6 linked regions of the Homo sapiens genome follow. The protein of the gene in region 6 purifies or fractionates together with the protein of the main gene of each other region. This does not show direct contact. Each region holds a gene or a part of one and is shown on either strand. Other genes may lie near its edges.

Evidence for each region.
Region 1: the proteins of COQ4 (region 6) and GLS purify together in Homo sapiens (affinity purification with mass spectrometry; one large-scale study listed by BioGRID and IntAct). This does not show direct contact.
Region 2: the proteins of COQ4 (region 6) and ALDH1L1 purify together in Homo sapiens (co-immunoprecipitation; one large-scale study listed by IntAct). This does not show direct contact.
Region 3: the proteins of COQ4 (region 6) and APOBEC3F purify together in Homo sapiens (affinity purification with mass spectrometry; one large-scale study listed by BioGRID and IntAct). This does not show direct contact.
Region 4: the proteins of COQ4 (region 6) and WDTC1 purify together in Homo sapiens (affinity purification with mass spectrometry; one large-scale study listed by BioGRID and IntAct). This does not show direct contact.
Region 5: the proteins of COQ4 (region 6) and TRMU purify together in Homo sapiens (affinity purification with mass spectrometry; one large-scale study listed by BioGRID and IntAct). This does not show direct contact.

The regions. Positions count from the first base shown.
Region 1 is NC_000002.12:190,879,321-190,883,620, reverse strand, and holds the start of GLS (glutaminase kidney isoform, mitochondrial isoform 1 precursor), read right to left. Parts: upstream 2,801-4,300; 5' UTR 2,537-2,800; coding exon 2,151-2,536; exon of another isoform or gene 2,053-2,150; intron 1,709-2,052; exon of another isoform or gene 1,633-1,708; intron 1-1,632. UniProt on the Homo sapiens protein: Catalyzes the first reaction in the primary pathway for the renal catabolism of glutamine. Plays a role in maintaining acid-base homeostasis. Regulates the levels of the neurotransmitter glutamate, the main excitatory neurotransmitter in the brain.
Region 2 is NC_000003.12:126,149,587-126,153,086, reverse strand, and holds part of ALDH1L1 (cytosolic 10-formyltetrahydrofolate dehydrogenase), read left to right. Parts: intron 1-2,555; coding exon 2,556-2,681; intron 2,682-3,500. UniProt on the Homo sapiens protein: Cytosolic 10-formyltetrahydrofolate dehydrogenase that catalyzes the NADP(+)-dependent conversion of 10-formyltetrahydrofolate to tetrahydrofolate and carbon dioxide.
Region 3 is NC_000022.11:39,039,456-39,043,663, reverse strand, and holds the start of APOBEC3F (DNA dC->dU-editing enzyme APOBEC-3F), read right to left. Parts: upstream 2,801-4,208; 5' UTR 2,704-2,800; coding exon 2,687-2,703; intron 728-2,686; coding exon 574-727; intron 1-573.
Region 4 is NC_000001.11:27,290,132-27,293,631, forward strand, and holds part of WDTC1 (WD and tetratricopeptide repeats protein 1), read left to right. Parts: intron 1-2,083; coding exon 2,084-2,266; intron 2,267-3,500. UniProt on the Homo sapiens protein: May function as a substrate receptor for CUL4-DDB1 E3 ubiquitin-protein ligase complex.
Region 5 is NC_000022.11:46,352,714-46,355,276, reverse strand, and holds part of TRMU (mitochondrial tRNA-specific 2-thiouridylase 1), read right to left. Parts: intron 1,511-2,563; coding exon 1,410-1,510; intron 1-1,409. UniProt on the Homo sapiens protein: Catalyzes the 2-thiolation of uridine at the wobble position (U34) of mitochondrial tRNA(Lys), tRNA(Glu) and tRNA(Gln).
Region 6 is NC_000009.12:128,329,339-128,332,838, reverse strand, and holds part of COQ4 (ubiquinone biosynthesis protein COQ4 homolog, mitochondrial isoform 1 precursor), read right to left. Parts: intron 687-3,500; coding exon 557-686; intron 1-556. UniProt on the Homo sapiens protein: Lyase that catalyzes the C1-decarboxylation of 4-hydroxy-3-methoxy-5-(all-trans-decaprenyl)benzoic acid into 2-methoxy-6-(all-trans-decaprenyl)phenol during ubiquinone biosynthesis.

The sequences.
Region 1 (4,300 bases), on a different chromosome or scaffold from region 6:
AATCTCTTTAACAGGCTTTACAATAATGAAGAAGCAATGTTTTCTCATTTATTTAATAAATAGTTATGTGTCATTTAACACACGCCAAATATTGTTCTAAGCCTTTTACAAAATGTTAATTTAATTTTCTCATGGTTATTTCTTTTAATAATACTACATAAAATCTGGCACAGTCCTGAGTGAGTGCTAGCATACCAGGTGGACTGCTGACTGAGGGATGACCTATGCTTTGCAGGCTAAGCATTAGAAAGGATAACAGGATCAACTGGGAGCTTACCTCCCAGGATAAGAGAAATGTTTGTCACATAAAGGCAAAATGAAAGGAGCCAAAGAGGGAAAGCTACATTTGGAAACCAGATCATTAAGGAAATAGAAACTTTAACCAAATTAAAAAACTTTCTTCACAACCTTGAGGCCCTTGCTAAAAGGTGATTTTTTATTAAAAAGGCAATGAAACCAGAAACTTCTGGACAAGTGAATCACAGAAGAAGCTCAATTTCCTGTTTGACAAAAGAGGAAAAAAAAGAGAGGCACTAGAGCCACTGCAGAGACACAGACCTGAAGACATAATTTTACTAGAATGCAGTTCCCATCTTGTAGCCTTTAAGATGAACTTTTAAACGGTTGTGACTGCATTTTGCAATTCTGTACCTTGGGCACTTGCATGTAAACTCGTTACTTCCTTGGTAAACCGGATGATGTTAAAGTAAAAGTGAGTCCCAGATGAGATTAAATTATCATTCTAGTCCCTAAAACATGAGAGAAGTACAAATTTAACAGAAGTATAGCTTTTTAGAACTTGAAAGGATTTAAGTCATCTAACCCAAGATATTAAATAACCTGTCCATGGTCAGGACGCTATTTTGTGGCACAAAACCAACATCACAAAATACCACAAATTTCGCCCATCATCAAGTGATTTTTTTCAAATAATCTTTTTCAGTCTGGGAGAAGAACTTTAGAAAAGTTTCTGGAAGGTCCCAACTTCAATTACAGGAAAACATCAAGCAGGCGTGAGATTGAAATTATAACAATGTTCTCACTTTCAGTTTGACTTAAGGAACTCTAGAGCTGGAAATAGCAGCAGAAATAAAAGGGAAGCAAAACAGGTTAGAGTGTCAGCGTACAAAGCCAGAAAAAGAGTAAGGTATAATGAAAGCAGATCCGTAAATTTTTACCCATTTTGGGAAAACAAAGTGGTCCATTTGTATTACACAAGACAAAAATATATAGGAGACTGCTTTGCATATTGTTTAAGAAAAACCAGTTTTGCTTTAAGACTAAACTACTGTGCCGTACACATACAGGATGAGTCAACATCCTATCACAATGAAGTCACAAAACCTACTCAACTCAGATTTTTCACTGAGTTAGTGTATTACGTCACATTTCATCTTGGCTATTTAACTTTTATTTCTAAAAATCTCCCCATCTCACGGAAGACCTGACAAGCCAAAGCTGGTCCCTTATGCAAACAGGTGGTCTATACTGCGTGCCCCATCTTCTCGGCCACATGACCGGATTCCTCCTAATCTCACTTCTGAAACATTGTTTCCGGTGCCCCAGATGGCTCTACACGTGCCTGAGGTAGCCACTCCCGAAATATAAAGAGCTCTCTGTCACATCTGGCTTCCAACCGGATGATGGCAGAAACCAAGGGAGGGCAGGCAGAGCGGAAACGAGCCAGGAAAAGCGACAAGTCAGGAAGGTAAAGGCTCTGCTGAACGCCCAACTCCTAAATGTCACTCGGTGGAGATGTTCGTGCAGCATCGCCCACGAATGGCTGGGGCGGGCGGCCAGGCGCTGCAGCCGCAAGCCAGGGAGCTGAGCACGCAGCGCGGGCAGGGGAGCGGCCTCTCTGGCGCTGGGGACGCCAGGCGAGCCCATCAGGCCCCACCGCGGCCCCACCAGGGCGACCCCCGCCGGGGGCGGAGAAGGGAAGTGGGTGCCTGGCGGAGGGTTGCGGGCGGGGAAGGCGCGGGCGGGGCCGGGCCTAATCACATGGCGCAGACGGCGCAGGCCGCCCGGCACCTCTTTCTTTCTCTTTTCTAGACCCTCGGCTCCTATCCCGCCCCACCGCAGGGCCCCACACAGCCTGAGCCCGGGCCCCGAAAGGAACGAGGCCTCCTGCGCCTCGCGGAGACACTCACTTTTCACCTGAGGCCACCAGCTCTTTGCCCTCGCTGTTGCCAAACGCGTCCGTCTCCCCGGGGCCGTCCTTGGGGCCGGGCGCCGCCGGGGCAGCGGGTGGCGACACCCCGGGCTGCGGATGCGTGCTCCCCTTGCCCAGCTCCTGCAAGATCTCCGAAGGAGAGCTGGACAGGCCCCGCGCGAGGGGCTCCGCCGGCCAGCCGCCCCCGCCCCACCACGGGTGGAGTCGCGCGGCGGCAGCCGGGCCCGCGGCCGGCCGTCCCCCGCCTCGGGGACGCCGGCACAGGGTGACCAAGGGCTGTGCCCGCCGCAGAGTCGCGCTCACGCCGGCGGGCGACCGCAGGAGCAGGTCCCGCAGCATCCCCGAGCCTCGCAGCCGCATCATGCCGCCGGGTCCGTCAGCGCCCGCTCAACAGGGGAGGATGCTCCGGGCGTGGGCGGCCGGTTTCCTCGGGGAACGCGGTCTGTGGTGGGGCGGTGAGATGACAGAAGAGGAAAGGGCAGCTACTTGGGTGTGGTTCCGGCTCGGACTCCCGCAGCGGATGCGGGTGCTGCTGCTGCTGCTGCTGCTGCTGCTGCTGCTGCTGCTGCTGCTGCGCGCTAGGATTGCCGCGACCGGTTCTCTTCGCTCCGCCTAAGGCTCCGCACTGAGGCTAAAGCGCAGGGGAGGGCTAGAGACCTTCAGCGCTCGCCGACGGCCCGCCCCTTTCGCCCGCTGCGATTGGCTCAAATCCTCGACCTCTCTTTTGATTGGCGATTAGGGCAGTCAAATTTCTCTCGGCTCTGGGTGCGCGGAGAGTAGGGCGGGGGATTGGTGGGGGGCGGGGAGAGGAGTCAAACTGACGTGTGAAGCGGGTGAGCCAGGCCCGGCTGCTCAGTAGCCACTTTCTGCACGCCGTGCCAACTCCGAGGCTAGCCTAGTTGGGTACTAGGGGCTCTGGGTTCTCGCATTTATGAAGCAGTGGGCTCCTCCACTCTGGGAATTCGAGCTGTTGGGGAGACTCATGGGCGAGATCCCCCGCAGCCGAGGGCAGTGAGGTCAGCAGGTTTGGCAGGGCTGAGTCTGGCCGAGCTGTCGGAACTCAGCCGATCCCAGCTCGCATCTGGCCCCCAGGTCAGGGCGTCTGGCGACTCCTCCGAGAGCAGCCCCGGACAAGCTTCATCCCTCTCCCAAATGTAACATTTGCTTGAAACTTTCCATGATTGGCTACTACCCAGACGTGAAGTGTTTTGGAAAAAATGAGCAAAATCCTTTCAGCTATGCGACTTAAGCCATGGGAGGGTGGAGGTGGAGGGAGGGCGACGAGTGGCGAGGCGGGGTGGGGGGGTTGCGGAATCCAGAATACGACAGCTTTCTTTTTTAAAAATTATTTTTTTTAAATGTACACCGATACTTCAAAAATAGTTTTGAATAGCAATGATTCCGTTAACGCTATTTGCTTGAAAGCAAAACTGTAGATACTTTTCTATTTTAAAAACTGCTTCACTGTTTTAAAATAGAAGCGTTGGAATACGGGTTCTCTAAGTTATTTCAGCATCACTTTATCCATTTATCCTTTTGGACCTGTGGAAAAACAGCCAAGAACCTGATAAACTGAGTTATTCCCTGAGGCTACATACACATTACATTCCAGGACAAAAAAATGTTTTTAGACTATTTCCTGAAACAATTAGGTTTAAATGGAGTAGATCCACAGAGTTTAATAAGATGTTTTGGGGGTTGGTGTGTTGTTACTGTGTTGTTGTGTGTGTTCGTTTTGAGAAAGGGTCTCACTCTGTCGCCCAGGCTGAAGTGCAGTGGCGCGATCACGGCTTACTGCAGCCTTGAACTCAGGGGCCCCGGTGATCCTCCCACCTCAGCCAGCACCTGCTTTTTTTTTTTTTTTTTTTTGTATTTTTGGTAGAGACGGGGTTTCGCCAGGTTGCCCAGGCTGGTTTCGAGGGATCTGCACCCCCTGGGCCTCCCAAATTGCTGGGATTACAGGCGTGAGCCACCACGCCCGGCCTAATGAGGTGATTTTTATGAAACTAGAAGGGTGTATGTCAGGTGCATCATTAATTGATAACCGGATTTAGTAATCTAGTGAACTGTAAAATATTTCAATAGATTAATAATTAGGAAATCTGGCTGTACCTACAGGTTATGTGA
Region 2 (3,500 bases), on a different chromosome or scaffold from region 6:
GGGTGTGGGGTCATTAAGCCTCTGTGCCTCAGCTCCCATCTCTTTGAACGGCGATGCCATGGTAACTTAGCACGTGCAGAGCCTTGGGAGCCATGCCGGCCACCTGCTCTTGTTATTAGCAGACTACAACTCACGGTACCAGCAAACACTGATGGAGCACCTTTTATACCAGAACAATGTATATGCGTTAAATTTAATCTGCCTAACAACACTATGAGATATGTATAAATATTATATCCTTATAGAGGAAAAAAACAGAGATTTAAATAACTTGTCCAGGATCATCCAAGCTAGCCCGTGGCAGAGCTGGGATTCAGACTCTGAAATTCTGGCTCCAAAGCCGTGATGCTGGTCTTGGCCATGGTAGCTTCCTGTTCATATGCACTCTACTACTCCTTCTCACATGAGCAGCCGGGGGTAGGGAGAGGGCAGGCAGGGATCTTCCCACACACTGACAGGGTCCGGACAAACCCCATGGGCGTGGTACCCCCAGCCGTGTTGCTGTGTCCGGCCTACCAGAGTGAGGCGTGGCAGTATGGGGCCTGGCCTTTGCTCGCTCTTGGTGTCCAGTCTGCCATGCTCCCCTGTCAGAAGGTCTAGGCTGCTGTTGATGTCTGCAATGTAGTGTTTTGGGTATCCAAGATTGATATATGCAGTTGCAAGAGAATATCTGTCTGTGGTCAGGTTCCCTAGAAGCAGCATCTAAGGTAAAAATTCTTGTGCAAGTGATTTATTGAGGGAATGTTCCAGAAAATCATGCGAGGCAGTAAGGGCAGAGGAAAGCAAAGCAAAAGTAAAGGTTCAGGAGAAGTCTAGCCTGGGGCTGCTCCCAGGGTGGGTTTTGGAGTATTAACTGCACCCTCCAATTATACCTGCCTGTCCCCACCTCTGTCAGCCTTTGGTTTCAGTGGCCCCTGGGGTGGGGTGGAGGACCCACCAGGCATAATCCCTCGGCCTCTTTGTGTACAGGAGCTCTTATCCATCCACAGCAAGCAAGGATGGGACAGTGCAGGCCGTTATCATCCAGCCCTTGCTGCAGCTGGAGGACAGGGCACCAGCCACAGGGGTCTGAGCAGGGCACCCACAGCATCTGTCCAGAGACCTGCAAAGACAGGAATGCAAAGAAGGCAATTAAGTGTCTTAAGAGGAAGCTGGGGTTATCAGCTCTCTCACAAGAGCTTTGTCCACTGTCCAGAGGTGGTCAGGGTGGGAGGGGAGTGAGGAGAGACCAGCTGAGCACACACACCCTGCTCCCCACAGATCAACCCAGAAGACCCTGGGTTGAAGCATCTCTCAGCCACGCCCTGTGGAGTCTGGCTGGGCTTTAGCTTGCAGAAAGCTCCAGAACATCTTTGAAAGGCAATGGGGCGAGGGTCAGGCCGAGAGGCAAGTTCCAGTTCTGGCAGAGCATGCATACAGAGTACCATTCTTACACAGCCACTCTTAACGCACAGTGACATGCACCCACCCATGAGCTTATCCATAACTCTTTTTGTACATGTGTTTTTTTTCCTGGCCCCTAACAAAAGCATTTGTTGAAAAACTATTGATAAACAAGCAGGCCCCAAACAATTCAAACATCTTATTAAATACAGTAAATCTGAGGCAGACACTAGAGTAGCCCAGAGTCATGAGCTACAATGGGGGCAGTTCATGTCTGGCAGCCAGAATCCCCTTGAACTGATGGCTGGACGCAGGCTCTACCTGGGACCAGCTTGAAGTGCTATCCTGAAGCTGCAGACTGCAGGGCCGGCCAGACCCTTTTTCAGCCTCTCCTCTTCCCACCTCTGTATCCCACACAGGCATCTGGTGATGTTCTCCAGGTGTTTCTGTGGCAGTTCTGGGAGCTACTGGGTGATTGCAAGATTAGTTTTTTTTTCTAAGTTGACTTTCTATGTGGTGCCTGAATGACGTTTTCTTTTTTTGTTCAGTAGGAATCCTTTTTTATAGAAGTAATAAAGTCATTACACTTAAAAACAAAGTGAAAGTGTGGTGGGAGTGGGTGATGGAAAATCGAGCAGCTGGTAGGGGACACAAGCTCTGCAATTCCCTCTGTGTCCCTGGAATAGTGGCCTCCCCACTCTGAACTCATCACTAATCTGAGACTCCCTGCTTCTTCCTCATCTGAAGGTTGGAGACAAGGCTGGAGCGCCCAGCACAGCACCCCTTGTGGGACACCTTCATCACTGCCTCAGGTCCGACCACAGGAACTGTGAAATCCTTCCTTTTGGCCGGGCGCAGTGGCTCATGCCTGTAATCCCAGCACTTTGGGAGGCCAAGGTGGATGGATCATGAGGTCAGGAGTTCGAGACCAGCCTGACCAATGTGGTGAAACCCCGTCTCTACTAAAAATACAAACAAAAATTAGTCGGGCATGGTGGTGCGCGCCTGTAATCCCAGCTATTCAGGAGGGCTGAGGCAGGAGAATCGCTTCAACCCGGGAGGCGGAGGTTGTAGTGAGCCGAGATCGCACCACTGCACTCCAGCCTGGGCAACAGAGCAAGACTCTGTCTCAAAAAAAGAAAAGAAAAGAAAAGAAATCCTTCCTTTTGCAGCTGCTGGTGAAGAATATTCAGCTGGAGGATGGCAAAATGATCCTGGCCTCGAACTTCTTTAAGGGGGCAGCCAGCAGTGTCCTTGAGCTGACAGAGGCAGAGCTGGTTACTGCGGAGGCTGTGCGGGTAAGAGGCAACTTCAGGGCTGCCATCCAGTTGGGCAGGTTGTGCCGTGCACATGTGTTCTGCAAATCACACTCCCCAGAGTTGGGCAGCGCCAGCCCTCTGTGGGTGTCTGTTTTGGCTCCAGGTGCAGTGTTGGTTCTATCTCGTCTTGGAGCTTTCTGTTGTCTTCTTGCTGCTCCTTCCTCTGCAACTGGGGCCCTGGGATCTGGCCAGTTCAGTCTGACTCTTCTAGGGGCTCATTGTCAACACTTAATAAGTGAAACAGAAGCTCCTGGAATATTTGAAAGAGTCAGGTGTCAAGCCCATGTCCCTGTGATTAGAATGTGAGCACTGGAGCCTTCCAGAAAGGCTGCACCAGAGGCAGCATCCCGGGCTGTGACCAACACAAGCTGCCCATAAGGCACACCTGGTCTCCAATCCAGCTTTGCCCCAATATGATGCTGTAGGGAGCTTTCGTCTCTAAGACTCAGTCTTCTCAACATGAATTTCCATCCATGCTCACTTCCTGGAATTTGTTCCTGACCCTTCATGCTCCCTCCCACTGTATCCTTCTTCCCTGGGTGGAGAGAAGAGATCTGGGGGAAGACCTTCAAGAGAGAAGGAACAGCAAATGGCAAGGCCCTAACAGGGCAGAGGCCTCCCTGTGTTCAGGGAGTCACCATGGGAGGGCACTGTAGCTGGAGCCCAGGGGGTGAGGGGCAGAGTCAGGTGGGCACAGCTGGGGACCTTGGGTGTTAACAGCACATGTGCGGCAAGGCTCAGCAAGGATGGACATGAGGCATTTGTGTGATCCAAAGGTGCTGAGAGCCAGCAACTTCC
Region 3 (4,208 bases), on a different chromosome or scaffold from region 6:
AATTAATGTTGAAGTAATATGTTAGCCACATTGGATTAATTAAATATTAAAATTAGGCCGGCGCTGTGGCTCACACCTGTAATCCCAACACTTTGGGAGGCCGAGGCAGGTGGATCACCTGAGGTCAGAAGTTCGAGACCAGCCTGGTGAATATGGTAAAATCCTGTCTCTACTAAAAATACAAAAAAAAAAAAAATTAGCTGGGCGTGGTGGTGGGCACCTGTAATCCCAGCTACTCGGGAGTCTTAGGCGACAGCATCGCTTGAACCCAGGAGGCAGAGGTTGCTGTGAGCCGAGATCGCGTCATTGCACTCCAGCCTGAGCAACAAGAGTGAAACTCTGTCTCAAAAAAAAAAAAAAAAAAACACAAGGCCTTTTGTGCAAAGGCAAACCCCCTCCACGATCCGATCCCAGGACGGTCCAGCAGGAAGGTCAGGGCCACGGACTTGGAAAGTGTGGGAGAGAAGGACACACTGGATAGCCCGCCGCCGGGCACTTCACTTATCAGTGCGTGGTTTGCTTTCCCAGCTGGCTTAGCTCCTGCCTGCAAAGTGATTGAAGTCCGGGTGGTACCTGGCCTCGAAAGATCTTTGCGTCCAAACGGGGCCTTGAGGGACCCTTTGTTTTCACTTCGTAGCACAGCCAGACGGTATTCCGACGAGAAAGGATGGGTCTATTATAAAAGTTGTAGGAGAATGTGTCTCGATACATTCGCTCCACTGTGTTTCTGAAGACACAAGAGAGAAACCAGCCAATGTAGAGAGCGCTCCCGGGAGCCCTCAGGGCTGATGTCCACTAAACACAGCCCCCTGCATGGCTCTGGGCCTCCCCAACCCCTCCACAGCCCTGAGAATTTTTGCTTCCTTCCCAGGCAGGAAGACCGGGGAGAGAGCAAGAAAAGGGGATGCTGGCATGGGCAGCAGGGGCAGGCTGACCTCTTCCAGCTCAGGGTCCAGCTCTGGTCGTTCCAGGAGTACATTCCCCACCTTCCCAGTATTTCTCCCACCCATTCTCCAACGCATTAGTAAAATGCAAAAGAGAACAAAGTTCTTGGCTGGACATTATGGCTCATGCCTGTAATCCCAGCACTTTGGGAGGCCGAGGTAGGCCCATCACTTGAGGTCAGGAGTTTGAGACCAGTCTCACCAACATGGTGAAACCCAGTCTCTACTAAAAATATAAAAATTAGCCAAGCGTGGTAGTGGGTGCCTGTAATCCCAGCCACTGTGGAGGCTGAGGCAGGAGAATCGCTTGAACCTGGGAGGCGGAGGTTGTAGTGAGCCGAGATCGTGCCACTGCACTCCAGCCTGGGCTACAAGAGCGAAACTCCATCTCAAAAAAAAAAAAAAAAAAGAGAGAGAGAATAAAACTATTCACCCCAAAATAATAGATTTTAACCTTTCAGCCAGTTCCTTCTGACATTTCACCTCTGTATATTACTATTGTTAAATCATGGTAGAACCGAATTCTGAGGCCCAGGCCACTCTTCTAAGTGCTGCGCGGATGTGAGCTCATGTGAGGCTGCCCTAGGCCCGCACGGGCCATTCCCATCTTACAGAGGAGGTGCCAGAGGCGCAGAGAGATGGGGTAACCTGCCCAGGCCACAGAGCTGGGGACGGATGGGGCTGGGGCCTCTTACCAGACCAGCCCTGTCCAGTCTCTGTGTCACCAGCCTTGCAGGAGGGAGCCATTGGGGACCAGACTCTCTTCTTACTAAATTTTAAAATAATAGCATTTCTCCTGATCATTGAGTTTTTTTCCCATATATTCCATGTTTTTTGTTTTTGTTTTTTTTTCTTTTGAGACGAAATTTGGCTCTTGTTGCCCAGGCTGGAGTGCGATGGGGCGATCTCGGCTCACTGCAACCTCCGCCTCCTGGGTTCAAGCGATTCTCCTGTCTCAGCCTGTGGAGTAGCTGGATTATAGGCGCCCGCCACCACACCCGGCTAATTTTGTATTTTTAGTAGAGACAGGGTTTATCCATGTTGATCAGGATGGTCTCGAACTCCCGACCTCAGGCAATCCACCCACCTCAGCCTACCAAAGTGCTGGGATGACAGGTGTGAGCCACCGCACCCGGCCACTATATTCCATGTTACTCGTGTCATTTATAAACAGTGAATGCTGATAGTGGAGGAGGAGCGTGTGTTTGGGGTCATCTGCATCCTCCTCTGCCCACAGTGGAGACATCCTTGGAAGATACGATTTATCTTGTGCTTCAGAGACCATTCCCTCCCCACACCCTCTCCTAAGACTTGCTATTTAAGCAAAGTAAATGTTACAGAAAATCCATCAAAGCACTGTGAACAAAATTCCACATTGCTCTAATCATCCTTTGGTTCAATTCTCCCAGTTCCAGAGTTCAGGAATGGCGGAAAGAACACAGAGGGAGCACCCTCCCAGGGCCGGGAGCACCAGCCCTGCCATGACTTTCGGTGGCGGGGGAGAGTCTCAGCAGGGCACCTGGGCTGGGGCAGGTGGGGAAGCGGCCTATTCAGAAGCAGCAGTGGGGCAACCACAGAGCAGGAAAAAGAGCCTGGCTGGGAGTGGCGGGGGCAGGGGAGCCAGAGGGGAGGGAGCCCAGGGCTGGGGCTGGGGCAGGGGGAGGCCAGGGCTGACGCCCAGCAGAGCCACCAGGCAGGAAGGGGCAGCAGAGGGGCCCAGCGGGTAGAGCGGGCAGCGGTACCTGAAGTGAGGCTTCATCCTTGGCCGGCTAGTCCCGACTAAGATCTTTGTCTGGAGCACCAGGGTTTCACTTTCTGCTCCAGGCTCCAGGTTTCAGGACAGCCCTCCCTAAAGTGACCTCCCAGGGCCTCGTAGTCATGGCCCCTCCCCCTTCCTGCTCAGGCGCTGGTGTAGGAGGCCCTGGGACGCTTTATCTTCCTCAGTCTCTCACCCTCTTTCTGGTTTTCTCTGGGGCCCTCCCCCTGGCAGAGGGACCTCTGATAAAGACAGGCCGCTCTGTGCGGCAGGACCCAAGGCAATTGCAAAGGGAAAGAGAAAGTCATTGCAGCCAGCGCCCGCGAGGTGGGTCCACACCAGGCTGAGCCAGCAGAGCACAAGCCCCTCCCCTGGTGGTCCCGCCCAGCTGGAGCCTCCTCTCCACCATCAAGACAGACAGGCTGATGCCTCCGCAGGGACTCCCGGATCCTGCCCTCGGGGATCATCCCAGAGACGGCCCCCACCCAGCGGCCATGGGGACAGGGAGGGAGAGTAAAGGGCCAGGTGTCTGCCTCTCCCCAGGCCTTCACCCTCGGAGGCCACCGTGGGAGGGAGGGACAGCAGGTGGGTGTGGGCCTCAGATGTCCCACCGGGATGCCATGCGCGCCCCCACACTGAGCTCTTTCCTTCCTGCTTCTCCTTCTTCCCCATCTCCTGCCCGGAGTTCCTCCCTGGTGGGCTGAGCTCTCGCCTCCTCTTGTCCCCATGTCATGGAAGAGCAGTGGCTGGTGTCCCAGGCCAGCCTGTCTGGAGCCTCCCTGCGCGTCTCACAGCTCCCTTCCCCTGGTAGCGTGTTCCCATGGCGCGGTGACCTAAAAATTACACAAGGGATGCATTTGGTTTTTTTGTTTGCTTTTGTTTTTTTGTGTTTTTTTGTTTGTTTGTTTGTTTTGAGACGGAGACTTGCTCTGTTACCCAGGCTGGAGTACAGTGGCGTAATCTCAGCTCACCGCAACCTTTGCCTCCCAGGTTCAAAAGATTCTCCTGCCTCAGCCTCCCATGTAACTGCGATTACAGGCACCCACCCCTACGCCTAGGCTAATTTTTGTATTCTTAGTAGAGACAGTGTTTCTCCATGTTGGTCAGGCTTACAGCCGCCCACCACTATGCCTGGCTAATTTTTGTATTTTTAGTAGAGACAGGGTTTCTCCATGTTGGTCAGCTGATCTCGAACTCCCGATCTGAGGAGATCCGCCCGCCTTGGCGTACCAAAGTGCCGGGATTACAGGTGTGAGCCACCGCGCCTGGCCACAATGTATAAATTTGGAAAGGAGATTTTATTTCTTGTTAAGGGTGACAGGCAGCAAGGTAGCCATCCCGCAGCCTGGGAAGAGCAGCCTCTGGGAAACACCAGAGACAGACATTTAGAAGCAGGAGGGGTTGGGGCAGGAGCTTTATGCTGAAGGGGTTGGCTAAACATACATATTCAACAGGCTATAGGAGGAGCTATGAATATTCATGTGGGTGGCTGCACTCCATGCTTATTG
Region 4 (3,500 bases), on a different chromosome or scaffold from region 6:
AGTGCAGTGGCGTGATCATGGCTCACTGCAGCCTTGACTTCCTGGGCTCAGGCGATTCTCCCACCTCAGCCTCCTGAATACCTGGGACTACAGACACGCTCCACCATGCTTGGCTAATTTTTCTATTTTTTTTGTAGAGATGGGGTTTCTCTGTGTTGCCCAGGCAGGTCTCAAACTCCTGGGCTCAAGTGATCCTCCCACCTCGGCCTCCCACAGTGCTATGATTGCTGGTGTGAGCTACCACACCTGGCCTTATTTTATTTTTACTTATTGGTTTACTTTTTTGTCTGTATCCTCACTAAATAGTAAAAGTAAACTCTCTTAGAGCAACTCCATGTCTGTCTTGTTCTTGGTTGTATCCCTAGAGCCCAGCACAGCGCCTGGCACATAGAGCCGCTTGATACATTTCTCTTGAACAGTTGGTCAGTGGCTATATACCTGGGAGGGGGCAAGCCACCCGGAAATGGTAAAATGGACTGTCCCCTTTTCCAGTGCCCTGCATTGTTACACATTTGCCTCTACTTCCCTTCATTCTAAAATGGTGTCGTTGCCCTTCTTTAACTCCTTTCTTCAGCTGTGACCTTAGAACTTCTTTCTTATCTCCCCAGCCTGCTTTAATCTGTCTCCCTTGAGTTCCTGTAGGACTTTGTGCCCTCTTTCCTTTTACAGATGAGGAATATCTAAGTCATATATAAATTATAACATAGTCAAGAGCAAGGCAGTGAAGTCAGACAGACCTGGGGTCAAATCCTAGCAATCGCACTCAGTATTTGACTGGGGTAAGTCACTGCATCCCTGAACCTCAGAAGACAGAATGCACTTTGTCAGTGGCAGGTCCAACTCTGTGTAGCACTTTTTGACCTTGGCTGACCAGATTTTGCCAGGGCCAGCTGGTAGAAGCGGAGCGTCTAGCGCATTGGGTAGGATCCTAAGTGTTTAGGCATAGGCACAGTCAGAGAAGGTGTCCTAGCAGAAGGTGAACATAAGCTGGGCCTTCCAGAACAGACAGGATTTGGATGAGCAAGGAAAAGCAGAGTGTATTCCCCAGCTTGAGCAGAGTTTGCAAAGGCAGAAATAAACATGGCATGTGCAGGATAAAGAATTCTGTAGTTATAATTGACCCACATTTAGAAAACTGAGGAATAAGGTTGGAGAGAAATGTGAAATTGAGTCTTGAAAACCAGACTGAGGAGTTTGGTAAAAGTAAACTTGTGCTAAAAGTATTGAGGAATCTCTGCAATTTTTTTGAGCAGGAGAGTGATGTAAAATAATATTTTAGGAAGAGCAGCCTGGTGAAGATGGCTTAGAAAGACAAGGTGAACAGCAAAGAGGTGATAACAGATGTCTAGGCAAGAGGGGAGAGCATATAGGTGATGTCCCCCCTACCCACCACTCTCTGAGGATACCTGTGTATTGGCAGCACAAAGTTTCCCCGTCTGGAGCGGTGGGAGTTTGCTGCTGTTTGGTAGACTTTTTGGCATTACCTTTACTGCGTGGATGAGACTTTTAGGCTTGCCTTGGCCCATGGTATATCTAGATAGCTCTTAGATGATCTGCAGAGTCTCTTTTCTGTCACCTCCATACCTTGTTTCATGAAAGAAACTAGATTAGGTAGGAACGGAGCAGTGTTTAAGATGCAGTCTCAGAAAGCTTCCCCAGCTCTGCACTTACTAGCAGTGTCATCTCAGTCAGGTTATTCAACATCTTTGAACTTCAGTATTCTAATGATACCTAGGGATGGCGTTAGGAATTAATTAAGGGGCAATACTGGACATAAAGCACATTTTCACTAAGTGTTGGTAATCAGTAGTAGTATAATAGTAGCAATAATACTAACATCTGTAGAATATGTACAATAGTATCCACCTTAGGAGTTCTAGTAGAATAGAATGTGTGAGAAGCCTACTACAGGTACCTGGCACACTGTGGACACTCAAGAAATGGGAGTTGTTTTTGACATTCTTATTTAGAAACAGGTCCAAAGTCCCTCCCAATCCTCTTGCATAACAAGAACTTATCTTTTCCCCTGCCTTCCTCTCAAGGACCCCAAGCCCCAATTCCCTAACTCTGTCCTCTCTCACAGCCAGTATGACCTTCGAGAGAACAGCAAACACTCGGAGGTGCTGATTGACCTGACAGAGTACTGTGGCCAGCTGGTGGAGGCCAAGTGCCTCACTGTCAACCCCCAGGACAACAACTGCCTGGCAGTTGGGGCCAGCGGGCCCTTCGTGAGGCTCTATGACATCCGCATGATCCATAACCACAGGTATGAATAGTTCAGCCTCCTGTCTCCTGTGAGTAAGTCCCCAGAGAACCTACTGCCCCTTTCCCTCACTGCCATTGCCATGCCCTCTTCTTCTATCACAGCTCACTGCAGCCTCAACCTCCCAGGCTCAAGCGATCCTCCCATCTCAGCCTCTCAAGTAGCTGAGACTACAGTCACACGCCACCTCGCTTGGCTAATTTTTTAATTTTTTTATAGGGGCGGGGTCTTTCCTTGTTGCCCAGGCTGGTCTCAAACTCGAGCTAAAGCAATCTTTCCACCTCGACCTCCCAAAGTGCTGGGACTACAAGCATGAGCCACTGTGCCTGGCCCCTTCTTTTATTTATTTATTTATTGTTTTACTTTTTTTTTTTTTTTTTTTTTTGAGACAGAGTCTTGCTCTGTCACCCGTGTTGGAGCGCAGTGGCACAATCTCAGCTCACTGCAACCTCTGCCTCCCGGGTTCAAGCTGTTGTCCTGCCGAGTAGCTGGGATTACAGGCACCTGCCACCACACCTGGCTAATTTTTGTATTATTAGTAGAGACGGGGTTTCACCATGTTGACCAGGCTAGTCTTGAACTCCTGACCTCAGGTGATCTGCCCGCCTCGGCCTCCCAAAGTGTTGGGATTACAGACGTCAGCCACCACACCCAGCCTGGCCCCTTCTTCTTTATGAAATGGACTTTCTTCAATTTTGTGATTTTTTAAAAAACTTAATCCTCGCTTATGTTGGAAAATATGAAAAGTATAAATTAGGCCGGGCGTGGTGGCTCACGCCTGTAATCCCAGCACTTTGGGAGGCCGAGGCAGGCGGATCACGAGGTCAGGAGATCGAGACCATCCTGGCTAACACGGTGAAACCCCGTCTCTACTAAAAATACAAAAAATTAGCCGGGCGTGGTGGCGGGTGCCTGTAGTCCCAGCTACTGGGGAGGCTGAGGCAGGAGAATGGCGTCAACCTGGGAGGCGGAGCTTGCAGTGAGCAGAGATCCTGCCACTGCACTCCAGCCTGGGTGGCAGAGTGAGACTCAGTCTCAATTAAAAAAAAAAAAAAAAAAGTATAAATTACCCATAATCTCTTACATAAATTCCTTATGATTTCCTTATATTTATTTATTCTTATAATTTCTTATATAAATCTCTTATAGTGTCTTTCTTAAAGAAATCACTGTATATAATATTTCCTGCTAGTTCTTATAACACTCAGAACCCCCACAGCACTCTCAGACCTGAGTT
Region 5 (2,563 bases), on a different chromosome or scaffold from region 6:
GGGCCTTTGAATCCCCATTTTACAGATGAGGAGACTAAGGCCCAGGAAGGAAGTACCATGTCAGAGTGGGCAAGAGGCAGGGGTGAGATCCGAGCCCATGACAGTGAATGCTGCAGGTTCAAGTCTGACTCAGGCCCTCTACCTGCAACCACCTGTGGGGCAGCAGCACGGCCCCCCTCGAGGACTGGTTTTTCTATTCGCAGGGACAGGGGCCAGCCACACCACGGGCTCTTCTCTCAAGGCCACCCCAGGAATTCCTCCACACACCAAATGGCTGAGGAGAAAGGAGGGACTGGTAGCTGCTGGCTTCCCACAGGTGCCCCAGGACTGGCCCTGGTCTGGGGGGCCCCAGATACCCTAGGTTGGTTCTGAGGCCCCTGCTCCCTGTCACCCACCCATGGCCTCGGGCCATTGAGACCTGGCACCTCCTGGGATTGTGCCAAGCCCCGCCCCTGAAGCAGGACGAGGAGCATGAAGTTAAGGGCTTTGGGTTCTAAGCAGGCACCAAGACCCGTCCAGGGACAGGAGGCCGTTGGTTAACCCTTCTGGTCTTCTCACAGCAAACTGAAATCTAGATCATTTAATTCATTCGCAGCCAGGCTTTTCTCCCCACAGGTCTTCCTAGTAAGGAGATGTCCTGGAATCGGTGGGTGGGGCCTGCTGGCCCCCGCCTCCGTCTAAGAGAAGGCGCCCCAGCATTCGTGCCAGAACATGAGCCGGCAGCCAGGGTGCTGAGAGTGGGCCTTCTCAGCTCCACGCGCCAAGGTGGAGGCCGGGTCACTCAGGGAAGAGGCTGTGCTGAACACGGCAAGCAGCATCCCCGGCCTGACCCACAGATGCAGCAGCACCCGCGTCCTTGCTTTTCCACCCAAGCTGTGACAACCAAAAATGCCTCTAGACACTGGCAAGGTCCCCTGAAGGTGGGGTGAGCTTGCCGCCACTGAGCGGCCCTGCTTTGAGGCCAGGGTCACAGTGGTAAGGTCCCCACTGTGGTGGAAGGCTTGGTTTGATCCTGGCTTGGCCATCTGCACCTGCCTGACAACAACTCACTGGATCCTACCATGGTGGGCACCATCCTTGGCACTGAGGCCATGCCCTCTCCACCGGATGAGCCACCCAAGCTCTGGGCGTCGCTGTCCTCTTTCATAAAATTGGAGAAACTGTATCTGTGTATCGGGGTTCAGGGATGATTAAGAGACCAGCATACAACTCAGCCTAATGAATACCTTAAAACTCTCCTGCCACCATGGCCAGTCCCAGGAAAGGCAGGGGACCAAGGACAGGAACAGAGTTAGTCACAGCCTCCAGGAAGCCACGGCTGCTGGAGGCCTTCTCAAGCCCTGGTCTGGAAGCACTGCTGGCCCTGCCAGAACCAGCCCCAGTGCTGTCTCAGAGGCCGGCCCACTCACCACAAACACGTCACCCTTGACGCTGTCCTTCTCCACCACGTACCAGGGCTCTCTCAGGCCACCTATGTTTGCTCTCTGGCCCAAGGTATACAGGAACCAACCTACAGAAAGACAGTTTCTCCATGAGGCTGGGCAACAAGTTACAGCCCACATGTCACGCCTCATCATGAAGGCAGATGCTGGGAGGGCAGCCCAGAGCAGGCCCAGCAATGGTGTAACTCACTAGGAAGATACGATTCTCCAACCACCAAAGCCAGCCCTGACCAAGCACCTGAGCACATCTCATCATTGTCCAGGCCTGGGCTGGACATGGGGTGTGGTGGCCACAAAGAAGGCACCTTGTGCCCCAGAAGGTGCAGGTTCCAGCTGTAGGAGCCCCTGACCCTAGGCCCAGGATGCGGCTGGGTGCCCTGTGTGACGCCAGGGGCCCTTCTTGCTGAGCCCATGACATAGCTGCACGTCTTCACAGTGTCCATCTAATGCAGTAACTGCATCAGGGCTACCCCCAGCTGCTCTGCGCACCCTCACAATGTCACACAGCAGATGGCAAACTCACTGCCTCCCTCCCCTGCAGTGGGGCACACAGGCAGAGAGAACCTCATGGGATTTACCACGTGGCCTGGGCCGGCAGCCTTCTTCAGTGAAGTGAACTGCAGGTGGAAGCCATGAGTCATCCAACTGGCTCCTGCTGGGGCCAGGGCTGGCAGATACATGGGCAATCCTGTCTGGCAGTTCTGTCCCAAGCAAAGCTGTCACCTCCACCTGTCTCAGGAATGCCTAGCCCCGGCTCCGCCTGCCGTCTCCCCTCCACAAGAGGTGGAAGATCTCCAAGTGCAATTCACTGCAAGACGCCCTACACCTGAGCTGCAGCCTGGCTCTCCTGGCCAGTCCCACAGCTCAGGTCTGTGCTGTGTCAAGACCTGCCTGATCATCACGCCGGCAGGCACATCCCCGCCACTGTACTAACCCAACAATGGCTGCACTCTGTCCCCACAGCAGGACTGCACACTGTGACTGACTCGGAGCCTGTCCCCTGACACCAGGCACAGCACAGGCTCACGCAGGCCTCACCGCAGTAAGGGTCTGCACATGAGCGAGCAGCACTCTGGCCAGCGCGGACGCCTGATCCCATCGCTGCATGTGGTCCTTAATCA
Region 6 (3,500 bases):
GGATGTGTTGGGAGGTGAACAAGCTATCTGAAGGAAAGGCCAGTGGTGCTCACAGCAGGGTAAAGAGAGGCACTGTTCCTCCCTAATCTCTACGGGGTCAGCTGTGCCCAGTCCTGGCCTGTGCTGGGCCCTGGGGCACTTGGCTTGGAGTACAGGAGAGAGCCCAAGAGTGAACAGAAGGGAGTAGGGGATGGAAAGGAAGCCTGGGGTCAGGGCGCAGAGGACCCCATGACCCCATAAGCCAGGCTAAACACTCCAGGATGGTTCCTGCAGGCCTTAGGGAGCTACTGAGGTTTCAGAGCAGGGAGGCAGCTAAAGCCTAAAAAGACACCAGGAGCCTTGAAGATGGGCTCTGCTGCTCCATTAGTGCAGGAGCCCTGAGGGGCAGTGGGAGAAAGAAGGGGGACATGTGGCAAAGATGCTACTAAGATGTTCAGGTAAAGCAGAAATTGAGGCACCAAGCCAGGTGATGCAGAGGGTGGTGGAGATAGGCAAGCCCTGCCCTGGCCCTGAAGCCACCCCAGGGAGACAGGCCATCAGGGTTGGGGGCACTCACCCAGGATGTTGGTGGGCATCCCCAGCAGGGTGTGAAGCATGTCGTGCACCTCCCGGTACCGCTGAATCACATACGCTAGCTCCTCATCATCCACGAAGCGGGTGGGTGCTCGGGTGTCTGGGGAGACCCTCTGACAACCATGAGCCTCCCCTAGAACCCTTCCTGATGGTTCCCAGGGCCCGATTTGCCAGTCTGTCTCTGACACCGTCACAACTCTCACCTAACTCATACCTACTAGAAAACTCTGGCGACTGGCCAGGGGCCGAGGCTCATGCCTGTAAATCCCAGCACTTTGGGAGGCTAAGGTGGGCGGATCACCTGAGATCAGGAGTTCAACACCAGCCTGACCAATACGGTGAAACCCTGTCTCTACTAAAAAATACAAAAATTAGCCGGGTGTGGTGGTGCACACCTGTAGTCCCAGCTACTCGGGAGGCTGAGACAGGAGAATCACTTGAACCCAGGAGGCGGAGGTTGCAGTGAGCCAAGATTGCACCACTGCACTCCTGCCTGGGTGACAGAGACTCTGTCTCAAAGAAAAAAAAAACCCAGAACAAAAAAAATACAAAAATTAGTCAGGTGTGGTGGTGTGTGCCTATAGTCCCAGCTACTCAGGAGGCTTGGGACAGGAGGATGCTTGAGCCCAGGAGTTTGAGGTTACAGGGAGCTATGACTATACCACTGCACTCAAGCAAGACATTGTCTCTAAAAATAAATAATGAAGCCCCAAAGACCCTGATCCTAGCATAACTTGCTCCCAGCTTGGGGTGTTCTCTCCCACTACCTCCATCTTCACTGTGGTAACTCCTACTTATCCTTCATGACCTGGGTTAAGTGTCCCCTGTCCCCCATCCCTTCCCCCCACCACAGAGAGGCCACCCCTAACCTACAGACCAAGTGGGTTCATGTTATGGTCTCTGGAAACATCATTCACCTCTTAGTGGCACTCAAAATAACTGTACCTTGATGTTTAGTGGATGTGAGTATTAATGTCTCCTAGACCTACACTGTCCAGTATGGCAGCCGCTTGCCACATGTGGCCAAGAAAGTTGTCCAAGCGAGATGTGCTGATCATATAAAATACACACGAGACTTCAAATGCTTAGTATGAAAAAAATGTAAAACTCTCAATGATTTAAAAATACTGGCCGGGCGCGGTGGCTCACGCCTGTAATCCTAGCACTTTGGGAGGCTGAGGCAGGTGGATCATGAGGTCAGGAGATCAAGACCATCCTGGCTAACACGGTGAAACTCCGTCTCTACTAAAAATACAAAAAATTCTCCGGGCGTGGCGGCGGGCGCCTGTAGTCCCAGCTACTCGGGAGGCTGAGGCAGGAGAATGGCGTAAGCCCGGGAGGCGGAGCTTGCAGCGAGCCGAGATCGCGCCACTGCACTCCAGCCTGGGCTACAGAGTGAGACTTCGTCTCAAAAAAAAAAAAAAAAAGAAAATTGATTACTTGTTGAAATAATACTTTGGATATATTGGGCTAAACAAGATGCATATTTAAAATCAATTCTAGCCAGGCACGGTGACTCATGGTTACAATCCCAGCACTTTGGGAGGCCGAGGCGGGCGGATCACCTGAGGAGCTCAAGGCCAGCCTGACCAATATGGTCAAAAATTAGCCAGGCATGGTGGCGGGTGCCTGTAATCCCAGCTACTTGGGAGGCTGAGACAAGAGAATTGCTTGATCCCAGAAGGCAGAGGTTGCAGTGAGCTGAGATGGCACCATTGCACTCCAGCCTGGGCAACAGAGTGAGACTCTATCTCAAAAAAACAAACAAAAAAATTCCACCTTAATTTTAATAGCAAAAAAATTAATTTCTTTTTGCTATTAAAGTAGCTGGCAGAAAATTAAAAATTACCTACGTGCTCACATTTTATTTATTTATTTTTATTTTTATTTTTTGAGATGGAGTCTCACTCTGTCGCCCAGGTTGGAGTGCCGTGGTGCAATCTCGGCTTACTGCAATCTCCTCCTCCCGGATTCAAGCAATTCTTCTGCCTCAGCTTCCTGAGTAGCTAGGATTACAGGCACGTGCCACTACACCCGGCTAATTTTTTTTTTTTTTTTTAGTAGAGACAGGGTTTCACCATGTTGGTCAGGCTGGTCTCAAACTCCTGACTTCGTGATCCACCCGCCTGGGCCTCCCAGAGAGCTGGGATTACAGTTGTGAGCCACCGTGCCCAGCCGATCACATTTTATTTTTATGGACAGTATCCAGACAGCCTGTCTGCTACACAAGGGCAGGACTGGCTCTGTTTCACTTATTCTTTTACCTCCAGTAGCCTGATCCAGGGCCTGGATGAATGAACACCTCTTGAACATATGAATAAAAGGCCAGTCCTGGGCACTTTTCTGATCCCAGAACTCTTCTCCTCTTAACTGCCCACTGCCTCTGAGTACTCAGCAGCACCCATACACAGTGGGAACAGCCTGGTCTTCCTGTTCCCAAAGAATGGCCTTAGCCTGCTGTGTGAAGCTGAAGGTGATCATAGAGTATCCACCAGGTGCCGGCACCTAGGGTGTCTTTTACATATATTATCCTTTCATCCTTGCAATCTTGGAGGTAAATACTGTTATTACTGCAGATATAGATAAGGAAAACAAGGGCCGGGCGTGGTGGCTCATGCCTGTAATCCCAACACTTTGGGAGGCCAAGGCCAGCGGATCACTTGAGGTCAGGAGTTTGAGACCAGCCTGGCCAATATGATGAAATCCCGCCTATACTAAAAATACAAAAAATAGCCAGGCCTGGTGGCGTGCGCCTGTAGTCCCAGCTACTCAGGAGGCTGAGGCAGGAGAATTGCCAGGAGGTGGAGGTTGCAGTGAGCCAAGATTGTGCCACTGCCCTCCAGCCTGGGTGACAGAGCGAGACTCAAAAAAATAAATAAATAAATAAAAATAAGGAAAACAAGGCTCAGAGAGATAAAGTAATTTGC